Linked DNA regions of Homo sapiens: region 1 is linked to region 2. Evidence: fine-mapped expression QTL. Tissue or cell type: blood mononuclear cells. Region 2 holds a variant in brackets; the other region holds the start of a gene. All regions are shown on one strand. Distances are from middle to middle.

Region 1 (2,686 bases), 37 kb before region 2:
TACACTTTTAAAATGGTTCGTTTGTTTTACATTAAAACTGCTCTTCAAGGTCCAATTGAAGCTTATCAAAGCTGATTTAATTTTTTTTTCCCAGGTGTGTCTTTATGTGCAGGAAAGCAGTCAGAAACTAAAGGCTCTTCAGTCACAGTTGTTTACTGAGTGTTCACTTAATACCTGGTGTAGTGATTATCCCTTTACACGCATTATCTCCTTTAATTTTCAGCAGGTTGGTTTAACTTTTATTTCCATTTTACACACGAGGCTCTGAGTTTGAGGAACTTGACAAAAATCACCCAGTTGGTAAGTGGATTTGATTCCAAATTTGTGAATCTCCAAAACTATCACAAAAATCAATCAGCCAAGAAGGATAGCCCAATGCTATGCCATCAGATGGGCTGACTCAAAAGGATGACTTTCCAAAAGCAAGCAATTGAATTAAAAAGACAATGTTTTCCATCCACCGGACCCGGCAAAAAAAGACTGGTTTTCCTCCAATGTGAGGCATAGTTCATATTCTGCAGGAGCACAATAATACCAGTGACTTAGGCTCCTTTAGAATTAGGGACTCGTGGGTGAACAAGGGTGGTTTTTCTGCAGCTTTCACTGGAATTGTCCGTTTGGAAATCTACCTCCCCATGGCAGGGCGGGTTTCAAAGAAGAGGAGAACAAACAAAAAACAAAAACAGGAAAAAAAAAAAAAGAGAGAGAGAAAGAAAAACAGGTGGAACCGACGTAAGGATGGCTAGAGCAGTGCGCGCGGAAGGCAGAACTTTCTGGGGGCGTCCTGTCCGCACGTTTCACGCGTGGTGCGCGCAGGTGGCGCCGCGGTCCCTTTGCTCCCTGCGCAAGCCGGAGGGGTGCCCAGAAGGCTACCACTAGCCTCAGCGAAGGTGAGAGAGAAGCTTTCCGCCGAAGCGAGGGAGGAGGGCGGGCAGGAAGCGGAGCCAGAGCTGGCAAAGAAAGGCTCCAATTCCCAGCCCCCCGCCCCGCGGGGCGCGGGGGCGCCGGCAGCGCATGCGCGAGGCCCGGCCCCCAATTCCCCCAGCGAGGGAGGGAGGCCCCCGGCGGCCGGGAGCCTGCGAGCCGCGGCGGGACCCGAGCGCACGCAGGGGCGCGGCGACGGCGGGGGCTAGTCGGGCTGCGGAGGCGGCCGTCGGGAGTGCGGAGCGCCTCGGACGAGGGTCCAACCGCCGGCAGGCACCAGAGGGCACGGCTGGCTCGGCACTGGGAGGGGCCCGGCGCTCGCAGCCCCCCACGCCCAGAGAGGATGCGTGAGTTTCGCCCCGGCTCGAGGGCAGGATGTGGGAGCAGGACAAAGGCTGGGCGGCGGGGGAGGAGTTGGGGACGGCGAGCCTGTGGCCGCCGCCAGAGCCCCAGCCTCGAGCGAGCTAGCGGAGTTGACAACTTTCTCTGCAACTTTTGCAAAAGGGAAGATAAAAATTCTGCAAGTTGTTGCACAGCTCCATATCGCCCCGTGTCCGGCGAGCAGAGGGGAGGGGGCACCGCAGCCTTCCGCGGACCAGAGGCGACCTCCAGCTCCTCTGAGCGGCGCAGGAGGGGGCGCCCGCCGGGGCCCGGGGCCAGGGGCGAGAGAGGATAGGGACACCGGGGGTCGGAGCCCGGGGTACGCTCTGGCCGCTGAAGTTGCCCGTGTCCACGCAGGGTGCGCCCTGAGAGCCGGGTAGCCTCGGATAGCGGCGCTGCGTACGCGATGATGGATGAGCCGTGGTGGGAAGGGCGCGTCGCCTCGGACGTCCACTGCACCCTGCGCGAGAAGGTCAGTCCCTCCCTGCCCTTGTCACTCTCAAGACTGGGTACAGTCTCCTTCGGTCTCGACTTCGTGTTCTCAGGTCGCCTGCGTGGGAACTCAGAACTCCCGGGTGCCTTTTTTTCCTCTTACCCTTTACCTTCTCCCGGAGTGTCTGAGCGGAATTGGGGGGCGGGGGTTAGAGACTGGAGATGGGAGAGATTGAAGTTGGTTTTTCTGATAAGGAGCTCAGAACTCTGGGCCAACTAGTCAGAGACAGCCACTGTACCTCTAAGGCAGTGTTTCCTATAGTATTGCCACCCTAGGTTATTTTAAACCGTACGTGAAGGGGTCTTTAAAAAATATTGTGTATTCATTCTAATGTGTAATTTAAGAATGTGTATGTATCTAGCAAGCTCTGCGTTTGCGATTTTCCATTTATTGTAATAATGATGTCGCAGTTTATTTTAAAACAAATTTAAGTAAAAGTAGTAACTCTATATAAAGATAAGTGGTAGTACAGGGAATACATGGTTATGGCCAAATACGTGTATCTATGTGTATATCTAGAATGGGACCGAATGAAATTTAAGGAACACCTGTATAATTGAAAGAGGCTACAAAACAGGGAGGCTGAGGGAAGAAAACAAAAACTCCCCTGCCGGTTTGCCTCCTGTGGCAGAAGGTGGGTGGGAGCAGCTGAAATGTGATCCCTGCACACCCCTCCCCTCAAGGAGAGAAGGGCTGAGGGGCATTGGGAAGGTGGAAGAGTCCAGGTGGGCTGGAGGCATGGCCTGTGTGTCTTGCCTCCAGTCCCTGGGCTGAGATTGGCAAGGGGTGGCTTGGGGAACAGGTGTGAAGTAGTGAATGGATTGGTTTCCTAGGGCTGCCATTACAAAGGACCACACAAACTGGAGGGCTTAAAGCAACAGAAATTTA
Region 2 (2,686 bases):
CGCCCCAAGTAGCTGAGACTACAGGTATGTCCCACTATGCCTGGCTAATTTTGTATCCTTAGTAGAGGCAAGGTTTCACCATGTTGGCCAGGTTAGTCTCGAACTCCTGACCTCGGGTGATTCACCCGCCTCGGTCCCACAAAGTGCTGGGGTTACAGGCGTGAGCCACAGTGCCCAGCCTTCATTTCTTTTTATGACTGAATAATATTCCATTGTATATCCCACAGTGTGTTTATCCAGTCATCTGTTGATGGATGTTTAGGTTGTTTTCACCTTTTGGCTGTTGTGAACAGCGCTGCAGTGAATATTTGGGTACCAGTTATATTTGAACACTGGTTTCTAATTCTTTTGGGTATATGCCTATGGGTTGGATTATGGGTCATGTGGTAATTTTATGTTGGACTTTTTGAGACACCTTGGAGGTTTGCTTTTGCTTGGTGGTTGCTGCCTGGAGATGACTGCAGTATTGAGTCTTTGGCCCCAGGGCATGGACCAGCCTGAGGAGGGAGGGAGGGTTGGGGAGAAAGCCAGGAGGGCAAGAGGTGACCTTTTGCTAGGGTAGCTAGGCCTTAACTGTAAGACCTTATTATTTTGCACAAGAAGTGTGAGATACGTTTTTACTTTTAAAAACCTGAAAGCATTTAGCCAGGTGTGGTGGCACGTGCTTGTAGTCCCCGCTACTTGGGAGGCTGAGGTGGGAGGAACTCTTGAGCCCAGGAGGTGGAGGTTGAAGTGAGCTGAGATCTTGACACTGCACTCCAGCCTGGGCCACAGAGCCAGACCCTATCTCAAAACAAACAAACACAAAAAACCTGAAAGGTACAGAAGTACCTAGTGTGAAAAATTAGTTTCTCCCCTTTGCTCACAGTCCCACTCCCACAGTTTTGTGTGAATCCTTCCAGACCTCAGCCGGGCACGGTGACTCAAGCCTGTTACCCCAGCACTTTAGGAGGCCAAGGCGGGCAGATCACTTGAGATCAGAAGTTCAAGACCAGCCTGGCCAACATGGTGAAACCCCCTCTCTACTAAAAATTCCAAAAATTAGCCAGGCATGGTGGCACGCACCTGTAATCCCACCTACTCAGGAGGCTGAGGTGGAAGAATTGCTTGAACCCGGGAGGCGGAGGTTGCAGTGAGCCAAGATTGCACCACTGCACCCCAGCCTAGGCCGCAGGGCAAGACTCTGTCTCAAAAAAAAAAAAAAAAACACACAAATCCTTCCAAACCTAGATGTGTTTTCATAGCTGGGAAAATTTATTTTCATTTATGGGGGGAAAATGAATCATAGATTACACCCCTACACACTACCCAGTGAACAAAACTGCCAGATTCCCTCTCTTCCTTCCTTTTCCATTCTTCCTTTTTCTTCCCCATCTAATGGCAATTCCATCGTACTTTTTCTGTTTTCTTTCACTGTCACTTCCGGACCCTGAGCCTGAGCCTGTCCCTGAGAAAACAAGGTTTCTCACTGGTGAGTGGTTTTCCTCTGTCCTCTGAGCCCCTCCTGCCCCTGGCCCACTGCCTGTTGTCTGTGAAAAGCAGTGGAAGGTGAGGCTGATAGATCTGACTCTTACAGTAAAGTTCTGACTTC[T/C]GGTTTCTGTAGGTGGGGCCACATCCTGTGCTGACCTTCGTGCTGGCCCCTGTCCTCCTCCCTAGGAGAAGTGTCTGGCAGGAGGTGGTCGCATGGCCTTTCTTTCAGGGGGGTGGGAAAGCCCCCGTCTCTGGCTCTGGTCCTCCTGCAGAGCAGGGTCCCTTAGCTCTGTGAGTCAGTCATGCTGTGCTGAGCTTACCTGTGAAAAGGCCCATCTCCTTACTACAGATTGTTTTTTTTTTTGAGACGAGGTCTCACTCTGTCACCTAGGCTGGAGTGCAGTGGCATGATCTTGGCTCATTGCAACCTCTGCCTCCTGGGTTCAGGTGATTCTCGTGCTTCAGCCTCCTGAGTAGCTGGGATTACAGGCACACACCACCACATCCAGCTCATTTTTTTATTTTTAGTAGAAACGGGGTTTCACCATGTTGGCCAGGCTAGTCTCAAACACCTGACCTCAAATGATCTGCCTGCCTCGGCCTCCCAAAGTGCTGGGATTACAAACGTGAGCCACCACACCTGGCCCTTACTATAGATTTTTAAAATTACAATTATTATACTCACTTGTAAAGTGAGATCCAAAGAATAAAATAAAAATCCTTTTCCCAATCCCAGGTAACCCCTGGGAACAGTTTCTTCTGAATTTGATCTGGTGTATTTTTCTGGAATTGTTCCATGGATATACAAACACAGTTGATTCTCATTACGGGTTCTGTTCTTGCGAATTTGCCTACTTGCTAAAACTCTTTTGTAGGCCGGGTGCAGTGGCTCACGCCTGTAATCCCAGCACTTTGGGAGGCCGAGGTGGGTGGATCACCTGAGGTCAGAAGTTCGAGACCAGCCTGGCCAACATGGGGAAACCCCTTCTCTACTAAAAATACAAAAAAATTAGCCGGTTGTGGTGGTGGGCACCTGTAGTCCCAGCTACTCGGGAGGCTGAGGGAGGAGAATTGCTTGAACCTGGGAGGCAGAGGTTGCAGTGAGCCAAGATCGCGCCACTGTACCACAGCTTGGATGACAGAGTGAGACTCTGTCTCAAAAAAAAAAAAAAAAAAAAAAGTGGCGGCACTTTCGTGGTGCTTTGCAAACACGCAC

The links. PIP is the estimated chance that this variant, and not a neighbour inherited with it, causes the effect.
Region 1: it holds the start of CCNJL, and the variant in region 2 is fine-mapped to the expression of CCNJL in blood mononuclear cells (TOPMed, PIP above 0.99).

What each region holds. Positions count from the first base shown.
Region 1 is chr5:160,310,949-160,313,634 of GRCh38, reverse strand. It overlaps CCNJL (cyclin J like), which reads left to right and starts at 1,071. Exons shown (of 6, transcript NM_001308173.3): 1 at 1,071-1,271; 2 at 1,663-1,777. The coding sequence starts at 1,712. RefSeq lists silencers at 853-912, 1,023-1,142.
Region 2 is chr5:160,273,607-160,276,292 of GRCh38, reverse strand. All of the region lies in intron 3 of CCNJL (cyclin J like), which reads left to right. Among named protein-coding and RNA genes, the nearest start is that of CCNJL, 38 kb to the left of the region's middle. The variant T/C (reference allele first, on the strand shown) is at 1,592.